Linked DNA regions of Homo sapiens. The protein of the gene in region 1 interacts with the protein of each later gene in a pairwise test. Each region holds a gene or a part of one and is shown in the gene's direction. Other genes may lie near its edges.

Region 1 (4,927 bases):
TAAATATTCTACATTGAACATGTATCACCAGCAGAAATAATCATTTACGAGGTGAAGTGTCCAGAGCCATGTAGTGTCTGCATTGCTGTGTCCAGGGATTCTTTGTTTGTTTGAGACGGAGTCTCGCTCTGTCATCCAGGCTGGAGTGCAGTGGCACGATCGTGTCTCACTGCCGCTTCCACCTCCCGGGTTCAAGTGATTCTTCTGCCTCAGCCTCTTGAGTAACTGGAATTACAGGCGTGTGCCACCACGCCCAGCTAATTTTTGTATTTTTAGTAGAGATGGGGTTTCACCATGTTGTCCAGGCTGGTCTCAAACTCCTGAACTCAAGTAATCAACCCACCTTGGCCTCCCAAGGTGCTGGGTTTACAGGCATGAGCCACTGTGCTCAATCTGCGTTCTGAGGCATTCTGTGCCTGTTATGAAATCATGATGCTGGCAGGTCGGAAGATGGAATCGACTTCCCAGCCCCATCGGCTGTGCCCTGCCCTCCTTGCTGTCTCTAGAGCGCGGCTGACTTCGGGGAGAGCTCTCCCTGCCCTGTGCCTCTATTTTTTCACCAGGTAGGGTGGAAATGTGTTCTAGTGAAACTGCAGAACGAAAATATCCCGTCTTACTCTTGACCCTTGAAGAAGCAGGAGCTGAATTCAGGTGCCAGAGGCTGCGTCCGCGCGCTCCACATCAGTCTCAGAGTGGAGGCGAGCCCAGGCCAGAGGCCTCTACCCCGGACGAGGCTGCAGGTGCCTGACGGGAGGAGTGACTGCAGCTCAGCAGAGGGAGTGTGTGGAGTGTGCGGCCCTGCCTGGCTTTTATTTTGCTCCTCCTGTTATTGGGAGGGATTAGCAGCAGAGCGAATGTTTGGATCTTTGCTGAGCAGTCCCATCGGATTTTTCTTTATTAAATAGGATTGTGTTTTATTGTAAGAAGGTTTCCCTAAGACAAATAACGAAGGAAATTCTGGGTCCAGGAGTACAGACTGTAGCTTCTGTCATCTCTTGCCAAGTTCGTAGCCCTCAGATGGTGTCTGTCTTTCCCCTTTGCTTGCGGGGCCTTTTACCACAGCACTTTGGTGTTCTTTTAGCTGCTGCGATAGGACTAGCTGTTAAAATCTGAGATTTTACATTTTTGCCAGTCGCAATAAATTTTGTTAGTTCTTTCTTGATGTGTTCTTTAAAATAATAATGCTTTTTTTTTTTGGGTGGGGGACAGAGTCTTGTGCTGTCGCCCAGGCTGGAGTGCAGTGACGCGATCTCGGCTCACTGCAAGCTCCGCCTCCCGGGTTCACGCCATTCCCCTGCCTCAGCCTCCCGAGTAGCTGGGACTACAGGCGCCCGCCACCACGCCCGGCTAATTTTTCGTATTTTTAGTAGAGATGGGGTTTCACCGTGTTAGCCAGGATGGTCTCGATCTCCTGACCTTGTGATCCGCCCAGCTCGGCCTCCGAAAGTGCTGGGATTACAGGCGTGAGCCACTGCTCCTGGCCTCATCTTTTTTTTTTTTTTTTTTTTTTTTGAGACGGAGTTTCACTCTTGTTTCCCAGGCTGGTGGAGTGCAACGGTGTGATCTTGGCTCACCGCAACCTCTGCCTTCTGGGTTCAAGTGATTCTCCAGCCTCAGCCTCCTGAGTAGCTGGGATTACAGGCGTGTGCCACCACACCCAGCTAATTTTGTATTTTTAGTAGAGATGGGGTTTCTCCATGTTGGTCAGGCTGGTCTCGACCTCCCAACCTCAGGTGATCCACTCACCTCGGCCTCCCAAAGTGCTGGGATTACAGGCGTGAGCCAACGCACCTGGCCTCATCTTGTTTTTTTTTTTTTTTTTTGAGACAGAGTCTTGCTCTGTCGCCCAGGCTGGAGTGCAGTGACTCAGTCTCGGCTCACTGCAAGCTCTGCCACCTGGGTTCATGCCATTCTCCTGCCTCAGCCTCCCGAGTAGCTGGGACTACAGGCACCCGCCGCCACGCCCAGCTAATGTTTTTTGTATTTTTAGTAGAGACGGGATTTCATCGTGTTAGCCAGGATGGTCTCGATCTCCTGACCTCGTGATCTGCCCACCTCGGCCTCCCAAAGTGCTGGGATTAGAGGCGTGAGCCACCGCGCCCTGCCACATCCTGTTTTTTTTACAACAGGGTGTCACTCTGTCTCTCACCCAAGTTAGAGAGGAGTGACACAGTCTTAGCTCACTGCATTCTCCCAGGCCCAAGCAATCCTCCTATCTCAGCCTCCCAAGTAGCTGGGACTTTAGGTATGTGTCACCACAGTTGACTAATGTTTTAATTTTTGTAGAGATGGGGCCTCCACATGTTGCCCAGGTTGGCCTTCCTGGGCTCGATCCTCCTGCCTCAGCCTCCCAAGGTGGTGCATGCCTACAGTCTCAGTAGATTAGAATCACCCTAACCCTCAGTAACTGAGATTGTAGGCACGCACCACCTCACTGACTCACCTCAAACTCTCTTTTTTGAGATGGAGTCTCTGTCACCAGACTGGAGAGCAGTGGTGCGATCTTGGCACACTGCAACCTCCGCCTCCTGGGTTCAAGCGATTCTCCTGCCTCAGCCTCTGTAGCAGCTGGGACTACAGGCATGCGCCACTACGCCCGGCTGATTTTTGTATTTTTTAGTAGAGACGGGGTTTCACCATGTTGGCCAGGATGATCTCGATCTCTTGACCTCATGGTCTGCGCACCTTGGCCTCCCAAAGTGCTGGGATTACAGGTGTGAGCCACTGCGCTCGGCCCATCTCAAACTTTTAATAAGGCTCTTCGTATAGAAATTTTTAAAAAATTAAAAACATTTTTGGCCAGGCTTAGTGGTTTAAGCCTGTAATCCCAGTGCTTTGGGAGGCCAAGGCAAGCAGATTACATGAGGCCAGGAGTTTGAGACTAGCCTGGCCAACATGGCGAAACCACGTCTCTACTAAAAATACAAAAATTTGGGCAGGTGCAGTGGCTGACACCTGTAACCCCAACACTTTGGGAGGCTGAGGTGGATAGATCTCTCGAGTTCAGGAATTTGAGACCAGCCTGGGTAACATGAGGAAACCCCATCTCTGCAGAAAATACAAAAGTTAGCTGGGCGTGGTGGTGCATGCCTGTGGTCCCAGCTACTCGAGAGGCTGAGGTCAGGCTGAGGTGGGAGGATCCCTGGAGCCTGGGAAGCGGAGGTTGCAGTGGGGGATGAAAAAGAATACCCCGTGTCCAAATAGCAAAACACTCTGAAATGAGGCAAACCGTGGTTTGTTGAACAGGTGTTCTGGGACAAGGTTGCCGAATATGCATTAGCCGTAATCCCCAGGACAGCCATGCAGGGTGGGTCTTAAACAGTTTTTTAGATTCTCGAGTATAAAGGTATAATATTGAAGAATAAGCACAAATAATGTCATCATACATGTTAAAGTGACAACACAGGATTTACAAAATTACCCTTTTTTCCCCAAAATTACCTCTTACGATGTGGTTTCTGTTGGTGCTGTTTTCTCTTGCATCATCCCGCCAGGTTGGGTAACCCTAACTGATTGTCACCAGCAGACCAACAGACAGACTCACAGCATCCTTCTCCCTGGTGTGAGCACTGCTTAATTCACATTTATGAAAATACTTTAAGACAAGGGCACTGTAACTCACATAGAATCTGAAGTGGCCTTGAACAGGGAGCTGGTCCAGCTGCCTCTTAGTGTGTCTGACCTCCAGGTGGGCGGACTGAGATGCGTGCAGGTGTTCATGGTATAGGCATCCTTGTAAACCTGCTCTGGTTAAGGATAAATAGGCAAAGTTGTGCTAATGCTGTTCCTACAGCAGCCTTTGCCCTGGACTGACTCCAGAACAGCTGGCTGACTGACAGCTGCCTCCCAGTAAAGCCTTAAACAGGCTTATCTTATATTTTTAAAAGGCAAAGGACAATAAGGCAGATTAATAAACTGTGGGGGTTTTTTTGTTTGTTTTTGTTTTTCTTGAGACAAAGTCTCGCTGTTGTACCCCAGGCTGGAGTGCAACGGCGCGATCTCGGCTCACTGCAACCTCTGCCTCTCGGGTTCAAGCGATTCTCCTGCCTCAGCCTCCAGAGTAGCTGGGATTACAGGTGCCCGCCACCACGCCCGGCTAATTTTTGTATTTTTAGTCTAGACGGGGGTTTCACCATGTTGGCCAGGCTGGTCTCGAACTCCTGACATCAGGTGATCCGCCTGCCTCGGCCTCCCAAAGTGTCAGGATTATAGGGTGAGCCACCGTGCCTGGCTTTTTTTTTTTTTTCCTGTCTTTTGTGTATGTGATGGGGTCTCGCTCTTGTCGCCCAGGCTGGAGTGCCATGGCACGATCTCGGCTCACTGCAACCTCTGCTTCCCGGGTTCAAGTGACTCTCCTGCCTCAGCCTCCTGAGTAGCTGGAACTGCAGGTGTGCACCACCATGCCCGGCTAATTTTTGTATTTTTACTAGAGATGGGGTTTCACCATGTTGGCCAGGCCGATCTCGACCTCCTGACCTCAAGTGATTGACCCACCTCAGCCTTCCAAAGTACTGGGATTGCAGGTGTGAGCCACCACACCCGGGGCTGGATTTTTTTGTTTTAAGAGACAAGGTCTCACACTCTTGCCCAGGCTGGTTTACAGTGGTGCAGTCACTGCAGCCTTCACCTCTGGGCTCGAGTGATCCTCCCACCTCAGGTTACAGGTGTGAGCCACCACACATGACCGCACATGGCAGATTTTTTTTTTTTTTTTTTCACGGAGTCTGGCTCTTGTCACCCAGGCTGGAGTGCAATGATGTGATCTCAGCTCTCACTGCAACCTCCGCCTCCTGGGTTCAAGCAATTCTCCTGCCTCAGCCTCCCGAGTAGCTGGGATTATAGGGGCGTGCCACCCTGCCCAGCTAATTTTTTTTTTTTTCTGGAGACAAAGTCTTGCTCTGTCACCCAGACTGGAGTGCAATGGCAC
Region 2 (4,082 bases), on another chromosome or scaffold:
CCAGTTCAACAAGTATTTAGGTAACGCCCACTCCCTGCCAGGCTCTGCTAGGGCAGAGGACAGGTGATTTGGAGGCACAGAGGAGGGACATCTCACCTTGCCCATGCAGTTTTCTAGAGGATTGATATCTTAGCATGACCTTAGAACCCCTAGAAGTTACCCAGTTGAAGGGGTGCAGAGAGTTACCCAGGCAGAGGGCATAGCTTGAGTAAAGCCCAGAGGCAATAGGGAGCTTGCTGAGTTCAGTGAAATGAGGATGTGGAAAGCAGAGTGACAAGAAGAAAGACTTAGGGTCCCAGGGAAAGGCCTTGTGTGCCATGATAAAGAATTGTATTGTAAATAGTGCTGCAATAAACATACGTGTGGATGTGTCTTTGTAGTAGAATGATTAGAATACATGGATACAGAGAGGGGAACATCACACACCGGAGCTGGTCAGGGGTTGGGGGGCAAGGAGAGGGAGAGCATTAGGACAAATACCTAATGCATGTGGGGCTTAAAACCTAGATGATGGGTTGATAGGTGCAGCAAACCACCATGGCACATGTATACCTATGTAACAAACCTGCATGTTCTGCACATGTATCCTGGAACTTAAAGTAAAAAAAAAAAAGTCCATCTAGAGGGAGAAAAGGGGAAAAAACAAAAATAATTTTATTTATCCTGAGGACAATGAGGAGTCAGTGGAGAGTTCTAAGCAGGTTCTAGATATCTTCCGGCTCAGAAATCTTCAATTAGATGGTCCCAAATGGCATCTACGTATCATACTTTGAGAGAGCCTGCTCTGTTGATTAGGAGCAAATAAATGTCCTCCTGGATGTATGTGGCCTGGGTTTTGCATTTGGGCTACTCAAATGCAAGTTCCTCGTGGGACCACATCCATGCTAGTGGCTGGCTGAAAAACGGCTTCATGACTCTCATGAGGGGAATAAAAGGCATGGAGTGGTGGCTGTGAGCCTGTCTGCAGGGCCAGACCTCAGAAAAGCAAAGGGCTGTAAATGTTTCATAAATTTCTCTCTGGGTGCCTGCTCTGGCTGAGAGCCCATTCATAAGCCCAGGCGGCTGAGGGGCAGGTATTGTGCCGGTTACTATAGCATCACCTTGGAAAGTCTCACTTGGTGAGAGCGGCAGGCGAGCTGGGGTGGGGCAGGAGGGGGACGCGGCTGGCTGGAGGGGCTGGAGCTAGGCCACGGATACTGCTGCTGGTCTCAGGACTCCTGGTGGTCCGGAGCTCATGTTAGCGTCCCCAGCTGCAGCCCAGGGAGGGAGAGAGGCTGCGCTCAGTCTGAGAGTGGCTGCCTGAGACAGCTGCCACAGGCTGCTGCAGAGCGTGCAGCTTTTGCAAGGGACTGAATTCCCAGCCAGACACCCCTTGGACTCTTTTTTGGAGGGGTGGGGAGCAGAGAGAGGAGGGAGTTGTCTTATCTTGGAAGATCCGAGCTGGGTTTCATCTCCTTTTTGATTTTGAGTAGTTCCCTCCACGAGAACTGACTTCCAGGTGTTCACCAAGGGAAACAAGGTGGTTCTCACACTGGAAATGAGGAAGGATGACAGTTTTTGAGACTGACTGTTAACGGCTCAGAGGTGCCCCTCATTCAAAATGCCTTTTAAAGCATTTGATACCTTCAAAGAAAAAATTCTGAAACCTGGGAAGGAAGGAGTGAAGAACGCCGTGGGAGATTCTTTGGGAATTTTACAAAGGTAAAGTTTGAATGCGAACTTTAGTTCCTTTCTGAGTAGCTTCGTATTGCCAATGTGTGAGAGACTTGGTATCACGTTTTTAAAACCACACTTTAATGAGGAGAGGATGGGTCAGATTAGATCCTTCTGGAGCCCCTTCTAGCTCCAGTAGTCTATGCCTGGAGGAAAAACAGATGCATGAATAGTATTGGGTTGTATTAGGAAAAGATCAAGACAAATATGCTGTTTATATAGCTGGATTAGCACTTTCTGGAGATGATGATATTGCATATGGTATGTTTGGCATTGAATTAGAAAATATTTAGGGAGATAATATTTTATGTTAACTCATTAGTAATGACAAATATGCCTTGAACTGAAATAATTTTTATGTTTTTCACTGAATCCACTATAAATGAAAATTAAATATTTGCAATTTTTAGCTTATTTAATAAAATACATAAAGTGGTTCCTGATTGTATAGTTTGCAAAGAGAAGGATAGTTACACATTAATTTGAAGGAAGTAACTTAAAAAATGTCTTTGAAGCAGAAAATCTCACATAATTGCAGTGGGAAAATGTTAAGTACTATCACTGAATTGAATGAGATTTTAGTCCAAACCAAAAAGTAAATATTTTTTAAAGTAAAATATATTAATGGAAGGAGAGTTTGCTATAAATGATTGAATTAATGTGACAGTTTAATTTATGAATTTTTATAGACATAGTAAATGCCTTCTCAAATTATATAAATGATTTCATAAGTGGTCCTTATGTGCAAGGTAAAATGACTGCTTTATCTCTCTGATATAAATAAATGTGAAAAATAACTTTGATACACTTTTTATTTGTTTGGATGATTATTTCTAATCCTGGTGAGTGAAAATGCCATCTGGTGTGTCCTTTTAACTTTTCTATTATCTCTTAAATTTAAAAACTTTTTCATTTAAATGACTATTTCCAGGCAATCTGAGATTCATCCCATTTCTTGTGTTTTAAAACACATATGCTCCTGTCAGTGTTAAATTTTCCATGGTATCACTGTTAATATTAACTTTCCTAATAAGAAAAAAGAGTTGGACACCTTATTATTTTAGTAATTAGAAACAAAAAAGCTTCAATCAGACCTACACTGAATTAGCATGTCTAGATGAAAACCTAGCTCAGTGACAGCAGCATAAACCAGCCAAATATAGAAAAAATTACAATAACATTTTTTTCAGAGTGTTTTATCCTTCCGTTGAGCACTCCCCAGGTAACGTCTTATTGTGTTGGCGTTCATTTGATTAGAAACGCAAAAATAATTTTTGCATAATAAGCACGATAGCTTAATTGGCTTATTCAAGTAATGACAAAGGAATCTGGCAAAGTCAAGAATAAAAACCATAGGCCGGGCGCAGTGGCTCACGCCTGTAATCCCAGCACTTTGGGAGGCGGAAGTGGGAGGATCGCTTGAGGCCAGAAGTTCGAGACTAGCCTGGGGAACATAGAGAGACCATGTCTCTACAGAAATACAAAAAATTAGCCAGCATGATGGTGCATGCCTGTCATCTCAGCTTCCCAAGAAGTGGGAGTATTGCTTGAGCCCAGACATTCAAGGTTGCAGCGAGCCAAGATTGCGTCTCTGCACTCCAGCTAGGGTGACAGAGTCAGACTCTGTCTCAAAAAATAAAAAAATAAAATAAATTTAAAAACCTATGACGTTGGGCCATAGTCACCATTATAAACAGCAAACTCTGCCTTCATTTATAAAATATTTGATATAAAAATACTTAGGAATTTTCTTTTCAACCTTAAGTTTAATTGCTTTTTGTGAAATTTGATTGCTTTTTTCAATAGGAATTATTGATCGAAGAGCCGGTTTTGCTATGTTTGATTGGAGGAGCTACATGGAGATCTTTTTGTTTACAAAATTGATTTGCTTAGGGATATAACAAAATTGGCGATTTTCCAAATTGTGTGACCTCAACCAGAAATTGGGCTATGTGTCTAGGACTGTTTGAATAGTTTCCTCAGAACAATAGAAAAACAGCTAGCACAGTACTAGGGACAGAGAATGCACTAAACAAATGCTAGATATTGTCATGGTTGTCCTAATTGTAGAATGGCTTTAGAAAAAATAAAGCCAAGGTCAAATCCCTTTTTTCAGTGATCTATAGAGAGAAATTATTGGCAGAAGAAACGAAAACAGACATTGCTTGAGCGGTGATCCAAGTTGATCCTCAGTTCTAGTGAGGAATTATCAAGACCAGCTCTGCCACGTGTTTGGCATTAATCACAGGTGTATAAGGTAATTGTATGTAAATGACCCTGCCCAGAGCCTGGCACATACTGGGCATTTCCCTCTCATTTCACTGCTTTTCACGTAAAACCAGTTGACAGAATCCCATGTAAAAAAATCA
Region 3 (3,500 bases), on another chromosome or scaffold:
CTATTTGTTTTCCATTGCCTTTTTCATTTTTTAGCATTTCTTTTCCTTCACTTTTATGTTAGGAATACTTCTGCAAGCATCTTCGTTTGTGCCGTATCATGAAAGTAGTTTGAGTCTATTCTCCTTATATAATATAACCATAGTGGTTTACTTGATTTTATTGGTTCTTGTAAGGCTATTTGCTGGATTCAGTTCATTTTTTTTTGTTGAGCCCCTGCTTTATATTCTAGTGGTTTTCCTAGGCTTAGTGAATGGTTTTATGAAATTTGAATGGCTTTCATTGCGCATCAAGAAACTTGGAATAACTGGAAATCTGTAGTGATCGAAAAGAAAATAGGTGATTAATTATATAGAAGTTTCTGAGGATCCACTCTTGAGCTGTTAAAATGGGGTTTTAAAGCTATAGAGGGAAAAATATTTTCTGTATAGTCAACATGTAATTATTGAAGAATTGCTGTATGTCCTTTGTTTTCTGTTGAGTTTATTCATTCAACAAATACTGAAGAAGTGTCTCTGTCCTTATGGCTATTAGTCTAACAGTGAGACAAATATGCTTGGAAAATGAATGAAAGGGGAGAGTTTAATAACCAGCAGAGGTCAGCAATATAGGCTCTTACAAGTCAGCATAAGAGTGTATGGTTAAGTGCCGGAACAAGTGCAGTTTGTTCATAAAAGGAAGAAATTAGTAAGTGGTCAGAAAATTTTCATGCTTTATGCTTTTGCATATTAACATGATAATTGATTGAATAAGATAGTTCATTATGGAAATAACATTTAAATTAATTTTTAAAATATGAAGAGAATTAGAATTTCACAGCTGGGGGGGCAAATTCTTAAAATATATTCAGTCAGATCTCATAGATTAAAAAACAAAGCCCACAGAGGCACACTTGCTCATTGTCTTGTGCCCATGTGTAGGTAGTGTAGAATTGGCATTAGAACTTAGGTCTCCTGATTTCTAGTCCATTACTGGTGACACTGTATGTGCTCCCTGGTTGCATTTTGATACCAAAATTCTTGTTTTGTATTTGGAGGTTAGAGTTGAGGGGAGGCAGCAGAGGATAGGATTAAAAAATTTTGGCTCAAGAATTTGAAAAGATCTGGGCTTGATCCTGGCTTTGACACTAACTGGTTGTGAGACCTTGGAAAGTTACTTAACCTCTTTCAGACTCAGTTTACTCATCGCGTGTTCTCACTCATAGGTGGGAATTGAATAATGAGAACACTTGGACACAGGGTGGGGAACATCACACACCGGGGTCTGTCATGGGGTGGGGGGAGGGGAGAAGGATAGGAGATATACCTAATGTAAATGACGAGTTAATGGGTGCAGCACACCAACATGGCACATGTATACATATGTAACCTGTACGTTGTGCACATGTACCCTAGAAGTATTAAAAAAGAAAGACTCAGTTTACTATTTTGTAAAATAGGGTAATAGTACATTCTCTATAGGATTGTAAATAGGATTAGATGAACATACATTTAGCATATAGTAAGAGCTTAATGTATAGTGGTTTTAATTAGGTACTAATATTTAGTATTAATAGTAATTTAAGAAATTCTGTTTAATGGCCAGGCGCAGTGGCTCACGCCTGTAATCCCAGCACTTTGGGAGGCTGAGGCGGGCGAATCACGAGGTCAGGAGTTCGAGACCAGCCTGGCCAACATGGTGAAACCCCGTCTCTACCAAAAACACAAAAAATTAGCTTGGCGTGGTGGCGGGCACCTGTAATCCCAGCTACTTGGGAGGCTGAGGCAGGAGAATTGCTTGAACCTGGGAGGTGGAGGTTGCAGTGAGCTGAGATGGCACCACTGCACTCCAGCCTGGGCGACAGTGCGAGACTCATCTCAAAAAAAAAAAAAAAAAAAAAAAAAAGTTCTGTTTAATAATCTCTATATGCTTAGCTATGAATTTAGTGAAATTTATGTTACTTTTGGATCTTCTGGAGTGCTGGTAGTAGCTGTTTGACTGATCATAGTCAAGGAATCAAAGCTAAAAATAATTAAGTGCTTTGCCTACATCAACCTGCTAGACTAGACCAAGGTTGTCTGAATTCTGGTGCTTTTTCACAACACGTAGTTCCTCCCTAATAAAATATCTCCATGTTAAAATTGAGCATAGTGTCCATTTTGTTTTGGCCTCAAAAATTAATTTTAGTCTATTGAAATTTTTTTTAGAAATGGCCTAAAATTCAGCATTCTCACTTATGTTATCTTTTAAGTTACAGTAATCTGGTGGCATTGTAAGAGTTGAAATTTAAAATTGAAAATGACCCATAATTCAAGTGTGTTATTCATTTGTCTTAGTCTGTTTGGGCTGCTGTAACAAAGTATAGTACCTCACAGTGGGTAATTTATAAACAACAGAAATTTATTGCCCAGAACTCTGGAGGCTAGGAAGTCCAAGATCAAGGTCCCAGCAGATTCAGTGTATGGTGAGTCCTTTTCCTCATTGATGGCATCTTCTTTGTGTCCTCACATGGCAGAAGGGGATGGCAGCTCTTTGGGGCCCTTTTCTTTTCTTTTCTTTTTTTTTTTTGAGACGGAGTCTTGCTCTGTCGCCCAGGCTGGAGTGCAGGGGTGCCATCTCGGCTCACTGCAACCTCCATCTCCTGGGTTCAAGCGATTCCCCTACCTCAGCCTCCCGAGTAGCTGGGATTATAGGTGCATGCCACCATGCCCAGCTAATTTTTGTATTTTTAGTAGAGACGGAGTTTCACTATGTTGGCCAGGCTGGCCTTGAACTCTTGGCCTCAAGTGATCCACCTGCCTCAGCCTTCCAGAGTGCTGGGATTACAGGTGTATGCCACCACACTTGGCCTCTGGGTCCTTTTTTTAATAGGGATATTAATCCCATTCTTGAGAGCAGAGCCCTGCTGACCTAGTCACCTCACAAAGTCTTCACCTTCTGATACCATCACGTTGGTGATAGGTTTCAGCATGTGATTTTTAAGGAAACAAACGTTCAGACCTTAGTTTTCATTTTGTAACATCAAGAATGTTATCCATCTTATTTCATTTACCTTGACAATGATACTTACAAGTTGATTTCACTCCTCCCTTATCTGTTTAAAATTTTGAGGCTGAGCTTGATAGCTCATGCTTGTAATCCCAGTGCTTTGGGAAGCCAAGGCAGGAGGATTGCTTGAACCCAAGAGTTTGAGACCAGCCTGGGCAACATAGTGAGACTTCCATCTCTACTAAAATTTAAAAGTTAGCTGGGTGTGGTGGTGCACACCTGTAATCTAAGCTACTTGGGAGGCTGAGGCGGGAGGGTGACAGAGTGAGACCCTGTCTCAAAAAAAAAAAAAAAAACCCAAAAAACAAACAAAAAAAAGATATAAAATTTTGAGTTTGGAGATTGGATAGCACTAGGAAAGTATTCTGAGGATTTCCTTTGTGATTGTCACATTTTGAAAACTGTCTTTTAACATTAATCTGGAACATAGTGGTTGCAGTTTGTGGGCCTGTGTTATTTTACGTTCATGTCAACT
Region 4 (3,500 bases), on another chromosome or scaffold:
AGTGAAATCCCGTTTCTACTAAAAATAAAACAAAAAAATTAGCCAGGCATGGTGGCAGGCGCCTGTAGTGCCAGCAACTCGGGGGCTGAGGCAGGAGAATGACGTGAACCCAGGAGGTGGAGCTTGCAGTGAGCTGAGATCGCGCCACTGCACTCCAGCCTGGGCAACAGAGCAAGATTCTGTCGCCTCCTGCCTCAGCGTCCCAAGTAGCTGGGACTATAGGCACCCGCCAACATGCCCGGCTAATTTTTTGTATTTTTAGTAGAGATGGGGTTTCACCGTGTTAGCCAGGATGGTCTCGATCTCCTGACCTCGTGATCCGCCTGTCTCGGTCTCCCAAAGTGCTGGGATTACAGGCGTGAACCACCACGCCCGGCCAAAAAAAAGCAAATCTTAAAGTGAGCTGTGATAAGTCTGAAATAATTTTCATTTAAACCTATGTCAATATTAATACGTTTTATAGTAATTTTATGAACTTTAAACATTTTTATATCGAGAAGTACCATTACTCAGAGAAAGACTAATAAAATATTTGTGGTAATGATAGTGGTTATATCTTAAAAGACTTATGTTTTGTGTTTCTGTTTTGTGATTTTCAGAGGCCTAGATTTGAGCTACAGTGAATGTATTAATGTAGATATGTAAAATAGCATGGAAAATGAAAGCAGAATTCTGCATCTTTTATTTATTTTTCTCTCCTTTGAATTCCTGGTTATTTCTTTGCAGTCACCCCAAACCAGAAGGCCTGGCTGCTGCCAAGAAGCTTTGTGAGAATCTTTTGCAAACAGTGAGTTGTATTTGTCTGATACTCATTCAGAAGAGCAATTGCCATTTTGGAGTATGTCTTAGCTGTTTCTTTCACCTGTTTAGTTTCCTAGTACTGCTATAACAAGTTATGGCAGTTGGGTGGCTTAAAATAACACAAATTTATTCTATCACAGTCCAGGAAGCAGAGTCTGAAATCAAGGTGCTGGCAGAATTGGTTCCTTCTGGAGTCTTTGAGAGAGAAATCATCCCATGCCTTTCCTCTCTCCTAGCACCTGGTCATTGTGTTGGTTTTCTTTGGCTTGTATTAGCATAACTCCAGTCTGAAGTAAGGGTAGAACTATAATAATTTAAAACCAGTTAGACATGTTTGGGGGATGATTGCTCATTTGATTATGCATTCTTTTTATTCTATAAACAACCAAAAGTTAAACCTTAGGACTGTCTTTTTTTTTTTTTTCTGTCGCCCAGGCTGGAGTGCAGTGGCGGGATCTCGGCTCACTGCAAGCTCCGCCTCCCGGGTTCACGCCATTCTCCTGCCTCAGCCTCCCAAGTAGCTGGGACTACAGGCGCCCGCCACTACGCCCGGCTACTTTTTTGTATTTTTAGTAGAGACGGGGTTTCACCGTTTTAGCCGGGATGGTCTCGATCTCCTGACCTCGTGATCCGCCTGCCTCGGCCTCCCAAAGTGCTGGGATTACAGGCGTGAGCCACCGCGCCCGGCCAGGACTGTCTTTATAGCACTTAGAGGAAATCAGGTTTTGCACTGAATATGTTCAACCTTGTGTTCTCTGGTGCCTTATTGGGTAGCTCATGGTTGGTTTTTTTGTTTGTTTTTTTACTTTTGTACATAGCACCTGATTTACCAACCCTTGTACCGGATAATTTTCTTGACTATTTCCCATCTTTGTTGGTACTTGAGGTTATGGACTTAATAATATATAGGAAGGAAGTATGAGGAAAATACGAAACCCTTACTAAATGTGAGCTCCTTGAGGAAAAGTCACCCAGTAAATGTGAATGAATTGAGGTCTCACCAGTTATACTAACAACTTGGAAATTTCCTAGTTACTTAATTTCTGTGGCTTTCTAAATGATTCTGTACCCCAGAATTGAGTATGGTTTAGGGGATTCAGGATTATTCTCCTAATTCCCAAAATTGGCTTAATAATTTATAGATTTGCCTTATTAAAATGTTGAGGTGGGTTGGACACGGTGGCTCATGCCTGTAATCCCAGCCCTTTGGGAGGCCAAGGCGGGCAGATAATGAGGTCAGGAGTTCGAGACCAGCCTGGCCAACATCGTGAAACCCCCGTCTCTACTAAAAATACAAAAACTAGCTGGGTGCGGTGGCACGCGCCTGTAGTCCCAGCTACTTGGGAGGCTGAAGCAGGAGAATCGCTTAAACCGTGAAGGTGGAGGTTGCAGTGAGCTGAGACCATGCCATTGCATTGTACCCTGGGTGACAGAGTGAGACTGTCTCAAAAAAAAAAAAAAAAAAAAGATTTGCAGTGATACAAGATCGCGCCACTGCACTCCAGCCTGGGTGACAGAGCAAGACTGTCTCAAAAAAAAAAAAAAATGTGGGTTAAACAAGTTTAAATTTGATTGGAACATTGGTAGATATATTTTAATTCCTAATGGCTTTGGTCCTAGAATTATGTAATCAGACCCTTGTAAATGCACAGCTTCGGCTGTCCCATGTTAATTTGTTTCCCCCTCTCTTTCAGGTTCATGCTGAATACTCTAGATTTGTGAATCAGATTAATACTGCTGTACCTTTACCAGGTGTGTACATCTTGAAGTGTTTAAAAAATATTTTGCTAGTGATAGTTATGTGTAACTATGATACTTGAGGCTAGACTGTGCCAGGGCACTATTAATGTTCCCTTTAATTTAGGGTAATTTGGAAAGCCATTCATGCCTCAGTATTTTTCTTCCCTAGATATTAAGTTTAATATTCAGCTAAATTGTCTCATTCTGCTGCAGCTGATTAAACACTTTTTTTCTTCCCCCTCAGGCTATACACAACCCTCTGCTATAAGTAGTGTCCCTCCTCAACCACCATATTATCCATCCAATGGCTATCAGTCTGGTTACCCTGTTGTTCCCCCTCCTCAGCAGCCAGTTCAACCTCCCTACGGAGTACCAAGCATAGTGCCACCAGCTGTTTCATTAGCACCTGGAGTCTTGCCGGCATTACCTACTGGAGTCCCACCTGTGCCAACACAATACCCGATAACACAAGTGCAGCCTCCAGCTAGCACTGGACAGGTAGGATGTCAGGATATGCAACAACATATTACTGAATTTAGGAAAAACTGGGGAAAGAGGGGAAGTAGTGGTATTCCAGAAATAAATCATGTGATGTGGAATGTCTTTTTCCTGCTGTCTTCTGTGTTCCTACCACCAACCTACCTGAATATTTTGGATTAGTGTGTATGTGTGTATGTCATCCTGAAGTTTATATTTTCACAAGTCTTGCACACCAAATAGCTGTTTAAAGTGGGGATGGTGGGCACACTTGCTATAAAGGGTCAGATGGCAAATATTTTAGGCTTTAAGGGCCATACATTCTCTGTCACAACTATCACACTCGGTGGTTGTAGTGCAGAAGCAGCCCGTGGATAATACCTCAATGAATAAGCATAGCTGTTGTACTCCAGTAGAACTTTATTTACAAAACAGGTGGCAGGCCACAGTCATAGTTTGCCATACCCTTGGCCATTGTTTGC

Evidence for each region. The genes of interacting proteins can lie anywhere in the genome.
Region 2: the proteins of DNAJC5 (region 1) and SLC17A8 come close enough for resonance energy transfer, tested with the Homo sapiens proteins (one large-scale study listed by BioGRID).
Region 3: the proteins of DNAJC5 (region 1) and SCAMP1 come close enough for resonance energy transfer, tested with the Homo sapiens proteins (one study listed by BioGRID).
Region 4: the proteins of DNAJC5 (region 1) and KHDC4 come close enough for resonance energy transfer, tested with the Homo sapiens proteins (one large-scale study listed by BioGRID).

The regions. Positions count from the first base shown.
Region 1 is NC_000020.11:63,900,871-63,905,797, forward strand, and holds part of DNAJC5 (dnaJ homolog subfamily C member 5), read left to right. Parts: intron 1-4,927. UniProt on the Homo sapiens protein: Acts as a general chaperone in regulated exocytosis. Acts as a co-chaperone for the SNARE protein SNAP-25. Involved in the calcium-mediated control of a late stage of exocytosis. May have an important role in presynaptic function.
Region 2 is NC_000012.12:100,355,792-100,359,873, forward strand, and holds the start of SLC17A8 (vesicular glutamate transporter 3), read left to right. Parts: upstream 1-1,282; 5' UTR 1,283-1,600; coding exon 1,601-1,701; intron 1,702-4,082. UniProt on the Homo sapiens protein: Multifunctional transporter that transports L-glutamate as well as multiple ions such as chloride, sodium and phosphate.
Region 3 is NC_000005.10:78,363,617-78,367,116, forward strand, and holds part of SCAMP1 (secretory carrier-associated membrane protein 1), read left to right. Parts: intron 1-3,500. UniProt on the Homo sapiens protein: Functions in post-Golgi recycling pathways. Acts as a recycling carrier to the cell surface.
Region 4 is NC_000001.11:155,920,914-155,924,413, reverse strand, and holds part of KHDC4 (KH homology domain-containing protein 4), read left to right. Parts: intron 1-726; coding exon 727-787; intron 788-2,495; coding exon 2,496-2,553; intron 2,554-2,785; coding exon 2,786-3,039; intron 3,040-3,500.